Regions from separate parts of the Homo sapiens genome. Here all the other regions are linked to region 3. The links come from fine-mapping of genetic effects on gene expression. A gene starts in region 3. Each other region holds a variant in brackets. All regions are shown on one strand. Distances are from middle to middle.

Region 1 (6,084 bases), 37 kb after region 3:
TGAAAACAGAGCCAGAGTGGGGAAAGGAGTGGTGTGGGTCACTGAACAAGCCCGCTGGCATATGTAGGTGAAGACAGTCATTCTACAGCAGTTTCCTGTACCACTGGCCTGCAAGATGATTTCCAGTGGTGCACTGGAGAACATTTTTTATTTTAATAGTAATGTATTAGCAAAAATAGAACAAGCATATCACATGATTTCACGGATGTTACTTAAAATGAGGCTAAGTTAAATTGAATTTTAATCTAATTTAAAGGAAATATGATTAGGCACGGTAGCCCACACCTGTAATCCCAGCACTTTGGGAGGGTGAGGCAGGTGGATCACATGAGCCTAGGAGTTTGAGACCTGTCTGGGCAACATAGCAAGACACCCCATCTCTATAAAAAATTTTTAAAAAATTAGCTGAGTGTGGTGCTACACGCCTGCAGTCTCAGCTACTCAGGAAGCTGACATGGAGGATCGCTTGAACAAACGAATTCAAGGTTGCAGTGAGCTATGATCATGCCACCACACTCTAGCTTAAGCAACAGAGCAAGACCCTGCCTCAAAAAAAAAAAAAAAAAAAAAAAAGAGAAAATATACTGGTTGGGCGCAGTGGCTCACACCTGTAATCCCAGCACTTTGGGAGGCCAAGGTGGGAGGATCACTTGAGCTCAGGAGTTTGAGACCAGCTTGGGCAACATAGCAAGACCCCATCTCATAAAAAAGAATTTTATATACATATACATATATATATACACACATATATATATACACACACACATATATATATATGTATATAAAATTCCAGCATAACCCTGATATGGTAACAATCCTGAAGGCAGCACATAAATGAGTAAAGTCTTGGCATGGCCTCACATTCACTCTCCTCCCCAGGAGACCATGCATGGTAGACAGCTCAGGGCAGGTGGCTTTGGAAGGCTGGGGGTGAACTCTCCACCTGCTTCTCTTGTCTTGATTTCCAGTACTTTGAGTACACAACTCAGAGGGACCTTCGCCACAACATCGCAAAGCAGCTGTGTCTACATGTCAGCAAGGGTGCTCTGGGCCTTGGGAGCTGTCACTTCACTGGCAAGAATAGCCAGGTCCCCAAGGACGAGGAATGGGAATTGGCCCAGGTGAGTCAGTGTCCAGAAAGCTCAGAATCAAGAACTTGAGGCCAGGTGTGGTGGCTCACGCCTGTAATCCCAGCACTTTGAGAGGCCGAGGAGGGCAGATCACGAGGTCAGGAGTTCGAGACCACCTGGCCAACATGGTGAAACCCCATCTCTACTAATAATACAAAAATTAGCTGGGCATAGTGGTCGGCGCCTATAATCCCAGCTACTCAGGAAGCTGAGGCAGGAGAATTGCCGGAACCCAGGAGGCGGAGGTTGCAGTGAGCTGAGGTCGTGCCATTGCAGTCCAGCCTGGGTGACAGAGCAAGACTCCATCTTGGGAAAAATAAAAAATAAAAAGAGAACTTGAGGCCACATCGGCCCCTCTATATTTTCTTCATTTTCTTCCTGAGACGCCATGGGGTGGAGTAGAGCAATGTAGAAGGTAGGTGAGTGTGTGTGTGGCCACAGGCAGGGTTCTTCAGGCTTAAAGGGTATTTGGTGATGACTGATGTAAAAATGGGGTGACAGGTTATGGTTCGTGGCTAGCTCTGCCATGGCTGAAGCATTTTTAGGCTGAACCCAATTAGAAGAAGGTGAAGAGTCATTCATAGTTCCTGCTTGTCCTCTGTGTCCTAGGCTCAAAGCTAGGCACTCACATGCCTGGGTCCAGTTAATCTTTCAGAGGCTCTTTCCAAGCAGGAATAGTCACTGTTTCTACAGATGAGCTGGAGCCGGAGGAAGCCCAGCATGTCTGTGACTGGCCCAAGACCCATCACTAGTAAATGGCAGGCCTGGGATTTAGCCCCAGATGGGTCTGACTTGAAAGCACGGGCTCTTTCCATTACACCACACTGCTCCAGGATATGCCATGTAACCGCCACCATGCTGAGCTCAAGCCAGCACCCCAAGTGAGCCTCCCTACTCCACCCCAGCTTAGGAAAGAGGAACCTAACCTGGAGGCTGCAGGGAAGGGAGCAGTCTAAACATAATCCAAGGCAGAAAATTGGAGGTGGAGCAGTGGCCCTGGGTCTTTGAGCCTGGCCATCTGGGGGTGCGGGAGGCCCTGAAAGCATTTTTCTCTCAGCCCATGGTCTTGTCTTTCACCATTTCATCCACTCAGTCTGAAGCTAGGGATGGGGATTTGGCACCAGATAGAGGTGGGAACTCAGGAATGTGTCTCATGAGAGGGCAGGAAAGGAATGGGGAAGTGTCCTCTTTGTGCCTTGTGGGGTTCCCTTGGCTTTTGTCAATTGCACCCCATCGCATTGTCCCTGGTAGCAC[C/T]GTTAAGAGGTCTGTGGCCCAGACTGACCTTTTGCTTTGTCATCTTTTAGGATCAGCTCATCAGGAACTCAGGATCTGGTACCTGCCTGACATCCCAGGACAAAAAGCCAGCCATGGCCCCCTGCAATCCCAGTGACCCCCATCAGTTGTGGCTCTTTGTCTAGGACCCAGATCATCCCCAGAGAGAGCCCCCACAAGCTCCTCAGGAAACAGGATTGCTGATGTCTGGGAACCTGATCACCAGCTTCTCTGGAGGCCGTAAAGATGGATTTCTAAACCCACTGGGTGGCAAGGCAGGACCTTCCTAATCCTTGCAACAACATTGGGCCCATTTTCTTTCCTTCACACCGATGGAAGAGACCATTAGGACATATATTTAGCCTAGCGTTTTCCTGTTCTAGAAATAGAGGCTCCCAAAGTAGGGAAGGCAGCTGGGGGAGGGTTCAGGGCAGCAATGCTGAGTTCAAGAAAAGTACTTCAGGCTGGGCACAGTGGCTCATGCCTGAAATCCTAGCACTTTGGGAAGACAATGTGGGAGAATGGCTTGAGCCCAGGAGTTCAAGACCGGCCTGAGCAACATAGTGAGGATCCCATCTCTACGCCCACCCTCCCCCCGGCAAAAAAAAAAAGCTGGGTATGGTGGCTTATGCCTGTAGTCGCAGCTACTCAGAAGGCTGAGGTGGGAGGATTGCTTGTTCCCCGGAGGTTGAAGCTACAGTGAGCCTTGATTGTGTCACTGCACTCCAGCCTGGGCAACAGGTAAGACTCTGTCTCAAAAAAAAACAAAAAAGAAGAAGAAAAGTACTTCTACAGCCATGTCCTATTCCTTGATCATCCAAAGCACCTGCAGAGTCCAGTGAAATGATATATTCTGGCTGGGCACAGTGGCTCACACCTGTAATCCTAGCACTTTGGGAGGCCAAGGCAGGTGGATCACCTGAGGTCAGAAGTTTGAAACCAGCCTGGACTACATGGTGAAACTCCATCTCTACTAAAAGTACAAAAATTAGCTGGGCATGATGGCACGCACCTGCAGTCCCAGCTACTTGGGAGGCTGAGGCAGGAGAATCACTCGAACCCAGGAGGCAGAGGTTGCAGTGAGCCAAGACAGCACCATTGCACCCCAGCCTGAGCAACAAGAGCGAAACTCCATCTCAGGAAAAAAAAAAAAAAAAAAAGTATATTCTAACAGACAGATCAGAGGTCTAAGAGATCCTCCCTTGCTATTATTACCTGAAGTCTGTAGAACTGTTTACAGATATCTCCTTGACAGGTGTCCTTTATCTTACTTTATCTGTACAGTAATCCTGTGAGAAAGACAGGACAGAAACCACTGTGCCTATTTTACAGATACGAAAACTGAGACACAGGTAAAGGGGCTTGTCTGTAGTCCCATAGCTAGCAGATGGCTGGAGCCAAGACTGAGGCTCGTTCTTCAATGCTGAGCCAGGGCTCCTTCCGCTGCACCACAAGAACGCTAGACCACTCGCCACCAGCCTTCTCATTCCCTCTTCCTCCATTCTAATCATTTCTAGCTGGCTGGCCTCCACAGAGCATAGGAAAACAGCCAGGGCCGGGCACGGTGGCTCATGCCTGTAATCTCAACACTCTGGGAGGCCGAGCCGGGTGGATAACCTGAGGTCAGGAATTCGAGACCAGCCTGGCCAACATGGTAAAACCCCATCTCTACTAAAAATATAAAAATTAGCCAGGCATGGTGGCGCACACCTGTAATCCCAGCTACTCAAGAGGCTGAGGCAGGAGAATTGCTTAAATCTGGGAGGCGGAAGTTGCAGTGAGCCAAGATCGCGCCACTGAACTCCAGCCTAGGCAACAAGAGCAAAACTCCATCTCCAAAAAAAAGAAAGGAAAAACAGGGCCAGGTAGCCATTGTGGAGAGAGCACACTTAGGAATCCTGGGATGTTAGTGTTAAAAGAAAGCTCCTGGAGCCAGTGATTCTCAGGTTTGTCCCAGAACCCTTTTTTCTAAGCCCCATATAAAAGGTAGATTAAAAAAACAAAGTAGCATGAGTGAAATTGAGAGAGGGACAGGTAATGCCTTCCAGCCCCTAACTTCTAACAATCTGGAAGCACAACGTGAAAATCACGTAGCCCAACCCTATCATTTTCATATTATGAAACTGAGTCCAGGTAAGTGAATCTGTCCAAGGTCACCCAGCAAGGTATCAGTAGCCCTGAGGGTAAGGACTCTGATAAGGCTCGGGAGGGTCCTGGAAAGCCTGAGGCGGCAGGAAGAGTGTGCAGAGTTGAGCGTGTCTGGAAGGCTGATCCACTGCTGGGCCCACATCAAAGCCCCCATGGGGAGCAGACCCGACTGCACATGGCTCTTTTGCTGGAAGAAGAGCATGGCTGCGCAGAGGACTAAAATTTCATCTGGGAAGGCTTCTTTTGACTGTCAGTAGCAGGATGTCACCAGATGAGGGTGCTATGGGACCACAGCTGTCTTTGTTCCCATTGCAACTCAACCCTGCGGGAGGCCGCCTACATCCCTGAGAGCCTTCTGGAGCCTACAGAGGAGACATTGGCCAGCCAAAAGGAAAGGAGTGGCCAGGGTACGACCTGGAGTAGGGAAGGGAAAAAGTTCCCGGAAAGAAGAGAATTGGATGAGAGGTCTCAGTGGAAATAAAGGTTTTCTGGCATTGGTCAAGGAAACTCGCGTTGTGTTCTCTTACCTGTGTTGTCCCTTAGCTGAATCAGTTGATTTGGGCTATGAAGAACCACACACATCTGAAAAGTTCTGTTACAGCCACTGTCTCATGTCCCCAAACATTCTCTGGCCCTAAATCTAGCTTATGTATTGTGTCAAGCACGTGGAGACGTGAGACGTCAAACGAGGTCCTGTCCCCGTGGAACTCACACGCTAAATGTAAGCAAATCATAGCAAGCCTGGAGATGCTCCAAGAGGTGCTGGATGAGTTAGAAGGAGCAATTCCTTCCACTTAGGGAATCAGATAAGGCCTCACAAAGATGGCAATGTTTGACCTAAGACCTCGGAAGATGAGTCCTCAGATGGGAAGGGCTCAATAAGCAGAGTTGTTACACAGGCAGCAGCCTGGCAGGAGCAAAGCCACAGAGGACATGTGGCCCCAGTGGGTCTGAGAAACCCAGAGGACATTGGGGTGAGGGAGTGACTGGTGTAGAAGCTGGAAGATCAGAGTTACATCATGAATTTCAGGGGCCCTAGGCACTTTAGCCTTCACGGAGCTCTTGCTCCATTCAAAAAAAAATTAATGTTATGACTATGTTGGTATAAAGATGAATGTAATCCAGGCTGATTGGATTTACTTTATTTCTTCTGGTTTTAAAAGAAGCTAAAACATTTCTATGGGCCCTGGGCACTGCACCTGCTGTGCCTACTGGGTAACTCAGCCCCGTACAAGAGTGGGTTGGGGCCCAGTTGAGAGAGGCTTTGGTAGGTCCGGTAAGCCACAGGGAGTCGTGGAGCCTAACCCTAGCCTTATTCTTGGTTGCATTAAATATCCAAACGTGGATCCCAGTATCCCTCATACTGTCTATGGTATCACCCAACAGCTCCCCAGCCTAATCATATGATGTAGCCCAACCAAGGTGCCCAGCTGTGTCAAGAAGGTTCCACCTGCCCCCAAATAGCATAGCACTTCCCAGGCACAGTCAGCCAAGAGCTACTCGCAGGGAGTGGGAGATGCAGCAGGAGGGAGAC
Region 2 (6,084 bases), 31 kb after region 3:
TAAAAGGAGTGGCCCATGCTTGCAGATGGGGCAAGAGATGTGATGGAGGCCATTGTGGAATAGTCACTGTAATAAGAGGGAGTGGTATGTGCCCCCAGGTGACTGTCTTTGAAAAGACTGAGAATATACTAAAAGAAAACAGACACATTTTCTGCAGCGTGAAGTTTGTAGCAGTTGCCCTGAACTTCTTTGGTGAAGGGCCAGATGATAAATATTTTGGGCTTTGCCAGCCACATATAGTTTGCTGCATATTCTTCATCTTATTTATTTTTTATTTTTTTTACAAACATTAAAAAATGTAAAAATAATTTTTTGCCCCAGAGGCTTCTAAAACCAGGCAGCCAGATTTTGCCCACAGGCTCTTGTGTGCCAGCCCCTGAGCTGCAGGGTAGACAATTGGAAGTCAACCCACAGTTTAATGCCCACTGGGCTCACCTTTCCCTCTTATACTCACCCCATCCTCCCCTCTCCAGGCAGCCTGTTGGTGTTATTGGAGACTGTAAGTTTATTTTAACAGTTGTCTCAGACAAACCAAGTTGAGGAGTGACTTTTAGTGTAGCCTGTGGTTTGGGATTATTTGTGTCATTGTTATCTTAGACTGGCCAGTATACTTAAGGCTCAACTGAATATACATCCAGGACGGAGGGATGCAGAGGTTGGAGATACAGTAGCCAGAGATAAGAGGGAAGGTTTGAAAGGAGGAAAGGATTGGTGCTTCTTCCTCTCCACGTGCCCAGAATCCTAAAAAATGCTGTCCATGCCAGGCACAGTGGCCCACACCTGTAATCCCAGCTAGATGAGAGGCTGAGGTGGATTAGGTGGATTGCTTGAGCTCAGGAGTTTAACAACAGCCTGGGCAGCATAGCAAGACCCCATCTCTTAAAAAAGAAAAAGAAAAAAAAAAAAACCTGCTCAGAGTCCCAGTAGAAAGGAACTCAGGTGAATGCCACAGGGAGAAATCCCACAGATCCTGAACAGCCAGCTGCTCTGTCTCCATTAGAAGGAGAGAGGGAAAGGAAAAGGCAAAAGAGAGAAAAGAAATTGGAACTTTCCACTGACCCAATGTTTGTTTCATAGCTGCCTTTTGTTTGGTGTGCACTGCAACAGATCCCCACCCCCACCCCCATGCCAGTGACCAGGCACACAGCAGCACAGTCAGAAAGAGGGCACCTGGCCCCCACCCATCACTGACGTCGCAGGCTTCAATGTCCAAGGGCCATACAACTGGAAGACAAAGCTCCAGTGTTTGAGGAATGAATGTGCTCCTTGGCCCACATGCCCCGGTAGCATGCATGGCTTGCCGAGGCTCTTCATGTAGCGCCCCCACCCCAGGAGGACTGCTGACAGTCCCCTCCCGGCCTCCCATCTCAAGCCAACCAGAGCCTAAGAGGAGAGGCAGAGGACCTGGGGGATTCTAGGGGTAGGCCAGGACATAAAGGGTGTTTACTAGAGGTTGCCTGTGGTTGTGAATTTACAGTGAAGCTTCCCATGCAGGGTTTGTCCTCATGGCTAATCCATCAGTGACTTCTCGGTCTGGGAGACTTCTCAAAGACAAGACTCAGGGCCTGTGGGGGAGGAAGCAGGTTGGCTTCCAAGTGCTCCTCTGCAGTTCCAGCACTCTCTGAGCCTCTCAGGGTGCTACTTGTGCCGGTTTAAGACCCCTGGGAGAGGCCAGAGCCTCTTCCAAAGTGATAGGAAGCCAGCCTGAGCACGACTGAAATTCCTTCCAGAAAGTGGCTGCAGGAGCCAACTTCAGGTAGACAAGAGCAACCACAGGGTAACACCAGGGTCACATTCCTGGGTAGGCACCTTGATGGATCATGCGAATGAACAGTGATTGGGCCCCAGCTGTGTGTAAGGCACCTAGATAGGTTCTGGGGTTACAGGGGTTCTGTATCTTTCTGCTTGGTTGTACCACATGAAGCTGCCCACTGAGGGCAGCAAAGCCCTAGCCATGCCAGGCTGGCCCAAACAGAAACCAGCAGCTGATGATTGTGCTCCTGCCATGTCTCACCGGCCCCCACCCCAGCATTCCATCTTGCTTATACTTCCCCGGGTCCGCTTCGATACCCTAACGCTTAGCCCAGTCCCTCTTCGAAGCAACCTGGTATCTAAATTCTAGGAATTAGATGTTTTTGTCAATTTATCTTATCTTGAGTCCACACCTCCCTGCCTGTGTCTGAAAGCCAGAATCTTTTTATAACCTTCTAAATGTTCCCTGTAGCCCAAATTGAGCTTGATCTCACCTGACCTTCCACTGTTTCCAGGAGCACCTTTTATCAGCTTTCTCTGTTAAAAGCAACTGGCAACTTCTCCCCAAATCTACAGTTTCTCATGCAGTGTAAATCACCAGGGCTAGGCGCCTACTAAAACTGTGGCTTAATAGTCCCTGAGGGGCAGGGGCCCTGAAACAGAATGGAGTCAGCCCAGCTGACAATATTCATTCATTCATTTATTCATGGTTTGAATCCTGCCTATTTTCAAAAACAATTTCACACAGCTTCTGAAAGTTGAGTATCTCCTAGGCTCCAGGCACTTTGCTGCCAAAAAGTAACTAATGGTAGCTTTAACCTCTGTGACTAGATTGAGCTCTGGGGGAATAGGATCTGTCTTTCTCCGTTCTGTGTGTCCATCATGTAGCACGGGCCCTGGTGGCCAGTGTTACGTGCATCCTAGGTTGAACGAATGAATGAGTGCCTTTTAGAGGATAATTACATATTTCCTTGACCTGGTCCTAGAAGGGGAAGAGGACATAGTAAAAGCTAAATGATGAGTGAGTTAGTGGATGAGGGGCTGCACGTCCTGAGAAAGAGGAAAGGAGGGGGAGGTGGGTTAGGAGGGGAGTCCACAAACAGCTTTCCCCGCCAGGCTCCGCTCCTCCTCTCCCAGAAGATGCACACACTTCTCCCTCTGTC[T/C]CTCCAGATCCCCGACGTTTGCTGGTGGCCTCTTCTCCATCTCCAAGTCCTACTTTGAGCACATCGGTACCTATGATAATCAGATGGAGATCTGGGGAGGGGAGAACGTGGAAATGTCCTTCCGGGTGAGAGTGAAGAGGGCTTTGGGGGGAACCACAACATCCCAGGCGACAGCTTGAGAAACATCTCTCAGGCAGAGGTGGCATCAGGGACATCCCATCTGGAACTGAACTAGAAAGGGTGGCTATTTCCCAGTGTGTCTCTTCCTCTTTTCTGCTCCCCCTGTCCATGGCAGTAGGGCTTGGGCAGTCAGCCTGGACAGCTCAAAACAAACTACTGGGCACAACTTCTCAGAGGCAAGGAATAATAGGGGTAATGAGGACTGGACATCTGGTGACTGGGGACTCTTTTGCGATGTCTGTGGGAAAGGGTTAGGGTGAAGATAGAAACAGGTTAGTATGTTCACAACTAGGGCTAGAAAAAAAAAACAGATGAGTAACCAGTCATCATCCTTTTTCTGGAAAAATCAGGCTCCCCTTCCCAGTTCAAAGGACACATGCCCTGGTAACCTTTGAAGTTTCCCTACCTATGTACAATAAGCCCTTCATAACAGTCAGAGAAGATGGTGGCCCCAACTCTGGTGGACCCCAGAACTCTGAGAGATTCCAGGAATTAGGCAAATCAGGATTAGGTCAGGAAGCAAGGATTGCCTCTCCATGAAACCTACACAAATCTCCATGCCATGGAAAAGTAATTAGTAAGTAGATGAGCTCATTTATGAAGTCACCTCTCACGGTGCCTGATGCATATTAAGCACGTAATTGATGCCTGCTGTTACTATAACGATTATGTATTTCTGTTGCTGCCACACTAAAATGAATAACAACATACTTTCCCACCTAAAACCCAAAAGAAGAAACCAGTGGGAGGGATGTCTTCAGCCAGCCCACCAGCATAGAAAAGGGTCACCTGCCAGTCACCCCAACTCCCAGCGGCCCAATCCTAGGCTCCTCCATGAGCCTCTGACCTCTGTTCACCTTCCTAGGCAGCCAGTGTGCTAAGGGCCCAAGTGACTACCACTAGCCACCTAGCAGCCAACTATCCTTGCTATTAATTAACAGACTGATGCTCTGGTTTTTATCACCTGAGGGAGCTGATAAACTCACATTTCCAGGTCAAAAAGCCAAGTGATCAGAGCTCAGAGTAGGTATACAGGCACAGGTAACAAAAATTAACCAGCAGGCTTTTCCCTAAAGTGGGCCCTGGTAAACACAGGACCCTGCAGTCTCCCTGTGCTTAAGTCAGAGTGAACCAACATCAGAAAGCCTGGGATCGTGTAGTCATGGCCTAGGAAGAAGCCTGGTCGGTATCCTTTTTCCCAGGGAGAGAGAGCAGCATTTGCCCAAGTCCTTGGACCTGGGGTCTGGTGCTCTGGGAATAGAATAGAGCTGCTTATGGGGAGACTGTCTCACCTAGCCCACTGAAGGCCTCATCCTGTCTCCTCTTACATCAGGTGTGGCAGTGTGGGGGCCAGCTGGAGATCATCCCCTGCTCTGTCGTAGGCCATGTGTTCCGGACCAAGAGCCCCCACACCTTCCCCAAGGGCACTAGTGTCATTGCTCGCAATCAAGTGCGCCTGGCAGAGGTCTGGATGGACAGCTACAAGAAGATTTTCTATAGGAGAAATCTGCAGGCAGCAAAGATGGCCCAAGAGGTGAGAGGAAATGGTTCTCGGAGAGGTTTAGATGAAGAGAAGTACGGCCCCCAGACCCTGTTCATGGGCCTAATGGCTGGGACCCACCTCATCTCTACCATCTGGCGCCTCCCTTCACCCTCAGGGACCTGTGAGCTAGAGCCCAGGAGAAGGCCACAAGGCACATAGGTTTCAAAAGCTAGAGAATGTTGTCCCTACGCATAGAGTCTCTGCATCCCTTTGGAGGGGAAGGGAGGGAAAGGAGATTTGGAGGAAAAGCCTCTTACGGAGGCTTTGGAGGCTTTGGAGGAATGGCTCTGAGAGCCTCGGCACTGGGGAGTGGGACATAATTGTCTGGGGAGTCACAGGAGATGGACCGATAAGCAGGGGACTCCAAAGCTAAGGCGGGGTTTTTGGGATTGGATGTGAGGGCTGGGCCAGTATCTTTAACAGGTCCTGAGTGGGAATGAACATGAGAGACAGTAGCCCCAGGCGCTCCATGCTATCTGCACTACTTCAGCCCAGACAGGAAGGTCAAAGACTGGTGGAACTGGCTGGGTGTGGTGGCTCACGCCTGTAATCCCAGCACTTAGGGAGGCCGAGGCGGGCAGATCACCTAAGGTGAGGGGTTTGAGACCAGCCTGGCCAACATGGTGAAACCTCATCTCTACTAAAAATACAAAAATTAATTGGGCGTGGTGGTGCGCGACTGTAGTCCCAGCTACTCAGGAGGCTGAGGCAGGTGAATCGCTTGAACCCAGGAGGGGAAGGTTGCAGTGAGCCGAGATTGCACCACTGCACTCCAGCCTGGGCAACAGAGTGAGACTCCCTCTTAAAAAAAAAAAAAAAAACTGGTGGAACTGATCCTTAGGGGGCTGGCTTGATTGACAGAAATCCTTCGGTGACATTTCGGAACGACTGCAGCTGAGGGAACAACTGCACTGTCACAACTTTTCCTGGTACCTGCACAATGTCTACCCAGAGATGTTTGTTCCTGACCTGACGCCCACCTTCTATGGTGCCGTAAGTCTTGAGAACCAACCTGCCTGCCCATCACCACAGCACCCCTTGGAGAAGTTCAAGACCACTGACCCCACAGATGGATGACAAACAAGAATTGAGTTTTGCCCTGCACCCTCCTTTATCCAGGAGGAGGACTGAGAGGCCACGTTGGGGCTTCTAGAGATAGCAAAAAACCTTATAAAGGGCAAAACAACCCACAAGCAGTGGTCCTGAAACATTAGCATGCATCAGAATCACCAGGAAGGCACGGTAAAACGCTAGGGCCCATCCCCAGAGTTCCTGATTCAGAAGGACTCAGGGGAGGTCTGAAAACTTGCATTTCTCACGAGTCTCCAGGTGATGCTGATGGTCCAGGGCTCACATTTGAGAACCACTGCTTATAAGGAAACTCCCACGTGCTGAGGGCTTCTTCCAGGGACCTGGCATCCTGGGAGGTTCCCTGCCTGCCCCACA
Region 3 (6,084 bases):
GCGTCAGCTGAAGTAAAATCAGATGAGTAATTTGCTTCCGGAATGCGAAACACACAACGCAGACTGCTGCTACTTCTTGGGAAGCTGGGCCCGGCCCTCTCAGGAGCACCAGGCTGGGGGTAATGGCCATGACCCTGTCCTGGGAAGGAATAGGGGCCATTCACCTCAGGTTAGGTTGGGTCCTGACTAAGGTGCAAGACTCACGTCAGGATCACACAACCCCTGAGGGTCAAAGGGCAGAGGTGGAGGAAGGACAGAGCAAAGACGGTAGGTCCGACCTGTACAGGGAGTGTTCAGCCCCAAGAAGAGAGACATGAGGGGCAGCATCCCACAATCTTCCACAGGAAGTGCCCTCATTCTGAGAAAGACAGCTGTCAAGTAAGGCACATGACAAGAATAGAAGCAGCTGGGGCAGTGAGGTGGAATCAGAGTCCAGAGGGTCTACAGATGGGCTAAGGGATGCTCAAGGAAGCTCTGTAGAAAGTCTCTCTAGGAGCTTAAAGCCCACGGCCTGGAATGTGAAAGGAAGGGAGTTGGTGGAAGGCTGCTTAGAGTTAGGGGAGTCGGGCATCATGCCAAGAGTGAGCAGATGAACCCCTTTCTACTCCTGGGAGAATGTCCATCCTTCACGTCACTCTGATCATGTGTAGCTGGGCAACTCTTCTTCTCCACACTCTGCTGGCCTTCTCTCCTGACTCCATCAAAGAACATCTCACCTTCTGAATAGATCAAACCTACCTTGGAGTCTCAGGTTAGAAAAAAAGATTACTTTCTTCATTCACCTGTTAACACCCGGCTGGCTTCCCTGCCTTTCCCAGTGCGTGTCAGAACTTCTTGCTAGGATCTACTCACTCATGCTCCTGCTCCCAGGTCTTAGGGTCTTAGAAATACAAATTCATGGCTGGACTCGGTGGCTCATGCCTCTAATCCCATCACTTTGCGAGGCCGAGGCAACAGGATGGCTTGAGCCCAGGAGTTTGAAACCAACCTGGGCAACATGGCGAAACTCCCTCTCTACAAAAAAAAGTTAGCTGGGCATGGTGGCATGCATCTGTGGAGGCTGAAGCAGGAGAACAGCTTGAGACCCGGAGGTCAAGGCTGCAGTGAGCCGTGATAGCTCCACTGCACTCCAGCCTGGGCAGTAGAGCAAGAAAAGAAAAGAAAGAGAGAAAGAAAGAGAAAAAGAAGGAAAGAAAGAGAAAGAAGGAAAGAGAGAGAGAGAAAGGAGAGACAGAGAGAGTAAGAAAGAAAGAAAAAAGAAAAAAGGAGGGAGGCGGGGCAGCAGAAAGAGGAAGAAAACAGAAAGAAAGAAAGACAAATTTATTTAAATATCAAAACAAAAGAGAAACTGAACTAGTGGTAGAAGTTTCTACCATAGAAAGTTTTCAAATTATTGGCTATTTGGAGTCATGCGCGCTCCTTCTCTGTTGCTAAGGCCCCAAAAGATTGCAGCACACGAGGCAGCGCCGGAGAGGACCACTGAGCAGCACGGGCCCTGGCGGGGTAATTCCGAACACCGGCTTAGGAGGCGGGTTTACCAGGATTCTCATTCCAGCCCTGCCACTAATTGTTCAGGGTTCTCAAGGTCGAGCATGCACAAAATCACCCGGAGGGCTTTTAAAACACAAGTCGCCGGGCCCAACCCGAGTTTCGGAATATTTAGGTCTGCGGTGGGGCCCATTTCTTTTCTTTTCTTTTCTTTTTTTCTTTTTTTTTTTTTTTGATACGGAATCTCGCTCTGTCGCCAGGCTGGAGTGCAGTGGCGTGATCTCGGCTCACTGCAACCTCCCCCTCCCGAGTTCAAGCGATTCTCCGGCCTCAGCCTCCCGAGTAGCTGGGATTACAGACGCCCGCCACTACGCCCAGCTAATTTCTTGTATTTTTAGTAGAGACGGGGTTTCACCATGTTGGCCAGGCTGGTCTCGAATTCCTAACCTTGTGATCCGCCCGCCTCGGCCTCCCAAAGTACTGGGATTACAGGCATGAACCACCGCGCCCGGCCAAAATTTCTAATAAGTTCTCAGGTGATTCTGACTGGCGCTGCTGGTGGGGGATCCCACTTTGAGAAACACCCTCTGCTGTGTGAGCAGCTGCCTCCCCGGTACATTCGGAATAATCATAGTAGGTTTAAAGTTTGCTGGGGCTGGGATTCACCTGATACCTGGCACTTGGAGCCCTTGACACAGTTCATGGCACACGGAATACGAGCTCTTGTTGGATGGAGCACAAATGAGAAGCAAACCTGGGGCAGGACCCCGGGGCCCATGGCCGCCCCGCCGCGTTTCCCCCTCCGGGGCAGGCCTCCGGGCTCCGAGCGCTCCAGGCTGGCGCGCAGCACATTCCGGTTCCATGCACCCGCCGCCCGCGGCTCTGCTAATGCCTGTCCTCTTTGGGGTGACTAGGACCCTCCAATCTTTTTCCGCGCTGAAAGCCTGGCCGCAAAGACCGCACCCCCGGGGCGGGCTGAGACGCAGAGAAGCCGGGGCGCCCCTCTGCCGGTCCGCCGGGAGTTCCCGGGCCCGCAGCAGGCTGAGGACACGGCGGGACCCGCTGCACCTGGCCAGGGAGGGGCGGGGCGGGCGCGTTAGTGCAGCTGGGGGAGGTCCCGCCCCGGTCCCACCCTCCCGGCCGTCCGGTGGGGAAACCCGGGAGCCACCCCGCGGCGCGGCTGCGGCTTTGCCTCGGCGCGACAGGTAAGCGGCAGAAGGAGCCCGCGACCCTCTCCCCGGGAGGGCCCCCCTGAGCTCCCCGACTGCTCGGACTTCCCTTCGGCGGATCTCGCTTCTGCCGAGTCCTCGCTCTCACCTCCTCCTCCGCCAGCCTTCGCCTCTTCCTCTTCCTCCTCACTACCCCCGACAGTAAAATGAAGGGGCTGGGCCAGGCTGGTCCCTCCTGCCTTCGCTCTCTGCTGGTCGCGGTGGCCTGTAGCTCCTCCCTCGGTAGGACCCCCCTCCACCTTGGCGCTTACGAGATGAATGAGGAGCCCAGACCTCTGGAACTTGGAGGGGTGAGAGGGGGACAAGCCAGAGCCAGGGCTCCACACCCTCTTCCCCTCACCCACCCATGCCCTGCATTCCTTCTGTGCCCCGTCTCCCCAGATCGGGCCACCCCATGTGCTCTGGTACGGCAACTCTTGCAGAGAGGTTTCCTCCTGCCCTGCCACGTTGCGCCTGAGCAGAAGGGGACAGCAAGGAGAAGCCTCGCTGGTGGAGGTCGGTCTGAGCCCTGCTTGGTTGAATTCCCTCCAGAGCCTGGGGGCTTTTGGGGGTGGGAAGGGATCTGCCTCCTGCTGTGGGGAAATGGAATCTGCTGGGTGTTCATGACTGTGACTGTCACCGACTTCCCTATTTCCTCAGTTGTTCAGATTCCCAGGCTGACAAAAAGGAGAAACAGCTTTTACTTGCATCCAGGGCCAATCATCGCAGACCCAGACGTCTGCAGAGGGTAGGATGGGGCTCTTCTGTGTATGGGGGTGGAGGGTGGTCAGTTTGCCCACAAAGCTTACAGCAGACCCCTTCTAGCAGCCGACAACCCATTGCAGCACTCTCAGAAAGGATGTTAACTCTGTGCTCTGAGCTCGCCCCCAGGCCCACACACACAATTTACAGGCACTGGGTGAGGTTCATAGTTCTGGACACACCAAAGAGCCTCGAGGACTTTTGCGCCTTCTACCAGAGATGTGTGTGCACCACACAGGCCCTATTCTCCGCTCCAGACAGATGAGCTGTCTCCCTTCCCATCAAAGGAAAGGTTAAGAAGGATGAGACAGGGAAATTCATGTGATGATGAAAACCAGGTCAGGTGAGGGGTTTGAAATATGCTTTGGTTCCGGCCACATGTGGTGGCTCATGCCTGTAATCCCAGCACTTTGGGAGGCTGAGGCTGGTGCATCACCTGAGATCAGGAGTTCGAGACCAGCCTGGCCAACATGGCAAAACCCCATCTCCACAAAAAATACAAAAAGTTAGCCGGGCATGGTGGCAGGCGCCTGTAATTCCAGCTACTTGGGAGGCTGAGGCAGGAGAATTGTTTGAACCTGGGAAGCAGAGGTTGCAGTGAGCTGAGATCGCACCATTGCATTCCAGCCTGGGCAATAAGAGCAAAACTCTGTCTCAAAAAAAAAAAAAAAAAAAAAAAGAAAGAAAGAAAGAAAGAAATATGCTTTGATTCCAATTGCCTAGCAGGAGCCAGTAGCATTGCAGGCATTTCCCTAGCTCCAGTTCCTTAATGGTGCCATGCACTTTAGGAACCCAGAGGTAATCAGAGAAAGTTGCTTCCAGGGGCACCAGGGCAGAGAACAGGACAAGACCCTCAAAAGAAAGAGGGAAGTGTGCAGGAGACTGGGCTGCTCAAGATGACCTCACCTCAGTAATGCTGCCCACAGTCCTACAGTGGGTGGAACAGCTGACTCCTACCTGTAGCAGCATGGAAGAACTCAGGGCAGAGAAGGGGAGGCCCTGATGTGTGTCAGGTGCCCTGTGAGGTCAGAAACATATTTGCCCAAGTTCAGCTGGAAGAAGTGGGGACAGGAAATATGAGCATGAACTTAGTCCATGCAACCATTGCCTCGAACAGACCTCAGGACCAGGAGGGGCAGCTAACCCTAGGGCTGAGGGCCTCTCAGTGCAGGGAGGCAGTGAGTATCATGAAGGCAGGCAGCTGACTCAGCCCTGTCACTAACTTCGATATATAATCTTAGCCAAAACACATAAACACTCCCTGGGTGGGGAGCAAATGAGAAGGTGTATATGAAGTGTTTTGGCAAAGCTCCAAGCACCAGTCAAATGCAAGACAATGTGATGTCATAGTTAAGAGAGTGGGCTTTGGAGATACATAGGCCTGAATGCAAATTCTGCCTCTGCCACATTTCTAGCTGTGTGACCTTGGTCAAGTTACTTGACCTCCCTGTGCTTCAGTTTCCTTCTGTGTAAAACAGAGAAGATAACTGTAACTTGATTTGATATGGTAAGCAGTAATATTTAAAATGGTGATGGTATTCTTCTTAACATTTTCTGGCTCCCACGGATGTGTTCCGACATCTCAGCCCTGGAAGGGATGCTGAAGACCAGGTTGGGTGTGTCCATGCCGTAGCTTGGGTGAACTCAGCTCTTTACACAGTCCTCTGCCCCTTTCTGGGAAAGCCCAAATGTTCATTCTCATTTGATAGGAACGAGAGTGAGGATTTGAATAAGCAGGAGGTTAAGTGCAGGGCAGTGCCTGTCTCTGTGTCGAGCTCAATGTTGTAATTGTGCTGTGTAAAAGGCCTGTGTGGTGAACAAGGGTGAGCTCACTCCAGGGAGGAGAAGGACTGTTAGAAGACTTTTGTGGCACCTGACAGCCCTGTGGGGTCAGCTTATTCTCTCGTACCCTGAACAACTTGGTCCTAAGGCCTAGGTAGAGATTTGAAGGAAGAAAGCAACCCAGTCCTCAACTCTGCACGTAATAGAGAATGAAGAACAGACTAGCAAAATAGCATTGCCATACATCTCAAGGCAGAGAGATGCGACAGGGATTGGAAGGCCAGGTAGATTGGTCAGGAAGAACATTCTGGAGACAGAAGTTTGGGGACCAAGACTCAAGGATTGGGAAGGAGAAGGAAATAGGATCTAGGTGGTCTACCGTCTAGGCCTGTTGGTTCTCCCTTCTCCATGATAGTTAGTGGGGAAATCCCACGTAAGGAAAGCACGGGTAGTAGAGAAACTTGGGAACAAATAACACCTAGAAACTGAGGCAGCAAGATGCACCTTAGTCTAGGAAGCCTTCTTGAAAGAGGGGAGTCTCTGGTAAGAATTTGAAAGAAAAGAAATATGGCTTGCTTAGCAAGAATATAAGGGAAAGGCTTTGAGGAAGAAAAGATAGCCAGTGAGTGCCAAGCATCTGGTTGGGCTTGAGGGTGAGCAGCAAACAGGAAGCAACCCGGCCAGCCCCTCTGTGTTTCTGCCACAGTCAAACAGTGCTCAAGGAATATGAATACGGCTGTCCTGATTGTGAAAGAGAGAGAGGGGCCCGAGGCAAAGGAGGCTGGCAGGCAGCTCCTGCTGATCCTCCAGATGCTAGTTGATAAAGGCCCAATTTCAAATGAAG
Region 4 (6,084 bases), 22 kb after region 3:
TCAAAAACAAAAACAAAACAATCACCTGCCTGAAAAACCTAAGCTAGTCATTCTTATTTTTCTGGGTCCTGGCATCCTTTCAGAATCTGTTAAAATCCCTAGAATAGTGCACCACTGCCCACAATAATATGCAAAACCCACATTTTTGCATTTAATTCCAGGGAATTTGTGGACCCTATGATAAACAACCCTACCCAGAGGGCTTTCAGACGCTAGAGATACTTTAAGCAACATTCAGTTCAGTGAGGAAAGGAGGAAAAAACCCTCAGATCCATGGTCAGAAATCTCTGCCGTCCACAGTGGGATAAAATTTCCCACACGTTTGACTGTTTGATCAGATTAACCAGCTCTCATTACACACACACACAAACAGGACTGTGTCTCTGCCGAAATACAATGTCCCTGCTCTCTGACCTCCACTCCAGGCACCCAGTAGTAGCCCTATGAGAGTGAGTCTAAGGGCATTTGATACCATGGGGGAGGAGACCGCGTGCTGAGCTGGGGAGCTTTTTCTTCCCCACCTCTGAGTCAGAACCAGGGCACAGACCTCATTCCTGAGTGGCTAGGTCAGCAGCCAGGGTTCCCTCCCTGTCTGGCACACTCCACCAGCTTAACTAAATTAGAGGGAAAAAAAAGAAGAATGCAGGGCAATGGGTTAGTGAGTGAGTAATTAGGGAGCTCTTTTCACCGGAGTAGCCAGGAAAGACTACTCTTAGTACTCCCTGCAAAGGGAGCAGCCAACACAGAGGCCTGAGGCTTGACTTGTTAATGAGGCAGAAAGAAGACAGTGTGGCTTAAACAAAGTAAGCCAGGGAGCAGAAAGAGTGCTGGTGGAGTGGGTGTAAGGAGCCGGGCCCATGGCTCATGCCTGTTAATTCCAGCACTTTGAGAGGCCGAGGCAAGAGAACCCTTGAGGTCAGGAGTTTGGGACCAGCCTGGCCAACATGGAGAAACCCCGTCTCTACTAAAAATACAAAAATTAGCCAGGCATGGTGGTGGGCACCTGTAATCCCAGCTACTCAGGAGGCTGAGGCAGAAGAATTGCTTGAACCCCGGAGGCGGAGGTTGCAGTGAGCTGAGATCACACCATTGCACTCCAGCCTGGGCGACAAGAGCAAAACTCCATCTCAAATAATAATAATAATAATAATAATAATAATAATAATAATAATAATTTTTTAAAAGGCTAGCGGGACCAAATTGTGAGACCTCCGTAAGCCACCGACAGTGTTTGGATTTTTCATGTGTGTATGTAGTAAAAGGCACGACATAAAACGTATCATCTTCACGGTTTCAGTCCACAGTTTATTGATTTTAAATGCATTCACATTATTGTGCAACCATCTCCGGAACTTTTTTTTTTCCCTTTTTTAATAAGATGGGGTCTCACCATGTTGACCAGGCTGGTCTGGAACTCCCAGCCTCCCAAAGTGCTAGGATTACATGCGTGAGTCACCACAACCAGCCAATAACTTATTTTTTGTCATCCCAAACTGAAATTCTGTACCTATTAAACATGAATTCTCCACGCTGTCCTCCCCACAACCCCTGGCAACCACCCTTCTACTTTCTGTCTCTATGAATTTGATTATCATAAGTGGAATCATACAGTATTTGTCCTTTTGTGACTGGCTTATTTCACTTAGCATAATGCCTTCAAGATTCATCCATGTTGTAACATTTGTCAGAATTTACTTTATTTTTTTTGAGATGGAGTTCGTTCTTGTTGCCCATTGGCGCAATCTTGGCTCACCGCAACCTCCACCTCCTGGGTTCAAGTGATTCTCCTGCCTCGGCCTCCCGAGTAGTTGGGATTACAGGCACGTGCTGGCTAATTCTGAATTTTTAGTAGAGACAGGGTTTCTCCGTGTTGGTCAGGCTGGTCTCGAACTCCTGACCTCAGGTGATCCACCCACCTTGGCCTCCCAAAGTGCTGAGATTACAGGCGTGAGCCACCAAACCCGGCCCAGAATTTACTTTTTAAGGCTGAATACTATTCTATTGTATGTATACACCACATTTTGTTTGTCCGTTCATTCGCTGATGGACACTGAGGCTGTTTCTGCCTTTGGCTATCGTGACTAATGCTGCTGTGAACATTGGTGTGCAAATATCCAAGTCTCTGCTTTCAGCTCTTCAGGGTATATGCCCAAAAGTGGAATTGCTGGATCATATGGTAATTCTGTCTTTAGTTTTTTTTAAGGAACCATCATACCTTTCCATAAGGAAACACCATGGATTTGTTTTTAAATACAATTTGAAGCCGCTGTAGTGACATGATCTGATTTATGATTTTTAGAGAGAATTTTACTTCTCACAGTAGCTGCCGTGTCAAGAATAGATTGAGGAGAGTGGTATAGAAGGCAGAAAAGCAGTGACTGTGGGGATGAGAGAGAGAGCTGGCAGTACCTGCAGATGTGCTGATTGTGGAAGGGGACAGCAGGGGGGATTCTAGCATGACTTCCAGGTTAGAGCAGCTGGAGGGATGCTGGCACCGTGTACTGACGTGAGGGAGACTGGGGGGCAGATTTGCAGGGGAAATTCAGAGCCTGTTTTGGGCATATGTTGAATTTTCCATTTTGTTCCACATCCAAGTGAAGATGGCAAGGTCAGGAAGGAATCCCTGGGAGCCATCTGCATGATACTTCAGATCATGGAACTGAGTGCGGTGTCTGTGTTGGCATCCCAGGGGTCTTGTGGACTTGAGTTGTGAGGAGTGAAGCTGGTTGGGGTGGTGGGGTGTTGAACCTAAGTTGGAAGGCTGTCACGGCGGGGACATGAGTGTGTGGCTGGGCTCACCGGTACAGCTATGCTCAGCTCCAGTCTCCTCAGTTCTGGGTCTGTCCAGTAGGTCTGGGGGTGGAACAGGTGGAGTATCACGAGGGGCATTGCTTAGGGGAGTTGTCTCCCCAGAAGGGCTTGAGGCCAGAGGCTGGAAGCCTCTCAGGCTGAGAATCCCTGGGTCTGGCCTCACCAGACTGGAAGGAAGGCGTGGGAGAAGGGCTTTGTAGTGCTCGGGGCCCCCCCTGAGGTTCACAGCTCAGTGCTTCACTGTCTCTCACCACAAAACCCACTTCCTATGATGTTTTGTCCGTGGGTTATCTCCACTACCGTGAACTTCCTGTGCGCAGAGCTGGGCAAGCTCTCGGGGAAACACAGCAGCCATGCTGAGGAGCCTGGGCTTCCTCCCTCCTTCCTGTCAGGGCCAGCACCCGGGGCTGCAGGTGCACTATGAGTCTCAAAGGGCAGGACCCAGACCAGGCCCCTCCCTTCCCAGAACAGCATCTGGCACCTGGCAGCACATTGACAGACATTTGTGGAGTGAGTGCTGGGCTGAGGCTGCTGCATGAGGCTGATTTTGATTCCTGAGGTCCTGGCCCCCAGAGATAAGAGGCCTCATTCCTGGAGTTAAGTAAGATACAGCCCCCTCCTCAGATGACTGCCTGAAGAATCCATTCATAAATGAGCGCC[A/G]TGTCATAATCACCTCACCTGTCTGTCCAGTAGGATTGAAGAAGGAAAAAGTGGGCGGGGCGTAGTGGCTCACGCCTGTAATTCCAACTCTTTGGGAGGCCGAGGCGGGCAGATCACTTGAGGTCAGGAATTCGAGACCAGCCTGGCCAACATGGTGAAGCCCCATCTTCACAAAAAATACAAAAAATTAGCGGGGCGTGGTGGCAGGTGCCAATAATCTCAGCTACTTGGGAGGCTGAAGCAGGATAATTGCTTGAACCCAGGAGGTGGAGGTTGTGGTGAGTCGAGATTGCACCACTGCACTCCAGCCTGGGCGACAGAGTAAGACTCTGTCTCCAAAAAAAAGAAGAAAAAAAAAAAAAACATGGAAAAAAAAAGAAGGAAAAAGCTGAAATTCCAAATTATAGAGACTTTCCTTCTCCTAGGCGCCACTCTCCAGGACAGTGACTAAAGAACAGCTTCAACAAACCCCTTTCTCTCCCTTTCCCTCCCGGGATCTCACACACAGGGAAATGGCAAGGCCTTGGGTGACTGCGAGAGGAAGCAGAGACCACCTTGAAACTCGGGTGCATTAAGTCCTTGGCCTTCTCATCTTAATCTGCTCCAGAATAAAAAAATTTAAAAAAAAAAGTCCGTGGCCTCACTGGTGGTCAAGAGACCACCTTGAAACTCAGGTGCATTAAGTCCTTGGCCTTCTGATCTTAATCTGCTCCAGAATTAAAAAATTAAAAAAAAAAAAAATTCCATGGCCTCACTTCCCCTGGAGGGAGAAGGTGGGGAGTCCTCACATGCAGACTGGCTAGGATCCTGCTGCTGCCCTTTGTGCTTCTGCCACCCTGGGCTAGTCACTTTGAGTCTTACTTTCCCCATCTATAAACACTGGGGACAATACTCCCTGTTTCATAGAGTTGTTAACTATCATAGAGAAGATTAAATAAAGAAGTCACCATGAAGACACCTACCTCACCCACACCGGCACACACTCCAGCTCAGTGCTGGGTTATTGTGTGCGTGCATTTGTGGGAGATCAATTGCATGCAACCCCCTAAGCTGCTTAATTTCAGGACCTGCCGTTTGTAGAATGCTGCATTCAGAGCAAGGCCCAAGCTCTGGGCTGATCCCACAGTCCAAAAGGAAAAGGACACACAATTGTCACATCTGTCCCCCACATCTGAAACTGCAGGCAACTCCATTCTGCACAGAACAGAACCGTGGCAGAGATAAACCAAAATGGCAGTTAGTAAAACATAGTAAGGTTTGGAATTCGGTATGTTTCAAGATGGACTGCTTCAGAATAGAGCTATTCTTCGTTTGTTTTTTGTTTTGAGACAAGTCTTGCTATGTCACTCAGGTTGGAGTGCAGTGGCATGATCTCAGCTCACTGCAACCTCCACCTCCTGGGTTCAAGCAGTTCTCCTGCCTCAGCCTCCCGAGTAGCTGGGTTTACAGGTGTGCGCCACCACACCTGGCTAATTTTTGTTTGTTTGTTTTTGGTTTTTTTGAGACGGAGTTTCGCTCTTGTTGCCCAGGCTGGAGTGCAATGGTGCAATCTCGGCTCACTGCAACCTCTGCCTCCCAAGTTCAAACGATTCACCTGCCTCAGCCTCCCGAGTAGCTGGGATTACAAGCATGCGTGCCCAGCTAATTTTGTATTTTCAGTAGAGACAGGGTTTCTCCATGTTGGTCAGGCTGGTCTCGAACTCCCAACCTCAGGTGATCCACCTGCCTCCGCCTCCCAAAGTACTGGGATTACAGCCATGAGCCAGCGCGTCTGGCCTAATTTTTGTATTTTTAATAGTGGCAGGGTCTCACCATGTTGGCCAGGCTGGTCTCAAATTCCTTGGCTCAAGTGATCCATCTGCCTTGGCCTCCCAAAGTGCTGGGATTACAGGAGTGAGCCACCGTGCCCAGCCAGAATAGAGCTATTGTTAATGCTCTGAGGATTTCAGACTAAATTACAGGGCCATGAACTAAAACTCTTCTTTGAAAGGAGCTGGAGGTCTCAGTAGAGACATCTTCCCTTCAAAAAGCTTTCCCCGCTCCTCAAATCCAGGAGATTTGGCCCTTCTTTGGGACCCACACCCCAGCACTACCTCTGTTAGATCATGGATCACCTGCCCTGGAATTGCCTGTTTCCTGGTCAGCCTTGCTTCTGGGTGGTTTGTTCCTTAGGACAAATGGTCAAGCCGGCTGGGCTCGCCACTGTGCCTGGTCCGTGGTAGGTGCTTGGTGCAAGTATTTTCTTAATATAATTAAAAAGCTGCTGGGCATGTTTTCACCTTAAAGAATTCTATCTGCAGAGGAGGTTACAAAGGGGATTAGAGTCAGATGTCCTGCTGCTGATCCAGCAAGCAAGGAGTCACCATTTGTGTATGCCCACCCATCGACGTTACCGTGAAGAGCCTGGGAGACAGGGAATCCTAGACACTGGAAAACAACCGTGCAATGGAGCTGTGGAATTGCAGCTCTGGAAGATGGTGGCTGAGAGGGTGGAGAAACTGAGGGAGGCATCTGAGAGCCTCTGTCAGAATTTTGTACTTGGGCCGGGCGTGGTGGCTCATGCCTGTAATCCCAGAACTTTGGGAGGCCAAGGCAGGCGAATCACTTGAGGCC

What was found.
Region 1: its variant is fine-mapped to the expression of GALNT6 in anterior cingulate cortex (GTEx, PIP 0.95).
Region 2: its variant is fine-mapped to the expression of GALNT6 in whole blood (TOPMed, PIP above 0.99). The same link has a PIP of 0.9 or more in hypothalamus, prefrontal cortex and spinal cord.
Region 4: its variant is fine-mapped to the expression of GALNT6 in testis (GTEx, PIP above 0.99).

Annotation. Positions count from the first base shown.
Region 1 is chr12:51,350,843-51,356,926 of GRCh38, reverse strand. GALNT6 (polypeptide N-acetylgalactosaminyltransferase 6) reads left to right here. Exons shown (of 12, transcript NM_007210.4): 11 at 969-1,121; 12 at 2,435-5,675. The coding sequence ends at 2,548. Among named protein-coding and RNA genes, the nearest start is that of CELA1, 7.2 kb to the right of the region's middle. The variant C/T (reference allele first, on the strand shown) is at 2,385.
Region 2 is chr12:51,357,677-51,363,760 of GRCh38, reverse strand. It overlaps GALNT6 (polypeptide N-acetylgalactosaminyltransferase 6), which reads left to right. Exons shown (of 12, transcript NM_007210.4): 7 at 2,923-3,040; 8 at 4,429-4,629; 9 at 5,500-5,631. Among named protein-coding and RNA genes, the nearest start is that of CELA1, 14 kb to the right of the region's middle. RefSeq lists an enhancer at 5,908-5,957. The variant T/C (reference allele first, on the strand shown) is at 2,916.
Region 3 is chr12:51,388,210-51,394,293 of GRCh38, reverse strand. GALNT6 (polypeptide N-acetylgalactosaminyltransferase 6) reads left to right here and starts at 2,888. Exons shown (of 12, transcript NM_007210.4): 1 at 2,888-3,007; 2 at 3,357-3,444. It also overlaps a transcript of SLC4A8 not described here. RefSeq lists enhancers at 408-497, 2,541-3,125, 3,126-3,711, 4,673-4,762, 5,788-6,084 and silencers at 2,316-2,855, 5,895-6,084.
Region 4 is chr12:51,366,146-51,372,229 of GRCh38, reverse strand. The region is part of intron 4 of GALNT6 (polypeptide N-acetylgalactosaminyltransferase 6); the gene reads left to right. Among named protein-coding and RNA genes, the nearest start is that of GALNT6, 22 kb to the left of the region's middle. RefSeq lists enhancers at 350-916, 2,755-2,904. The variant A/G (reference allele first, on the strand shown) is at 3,472.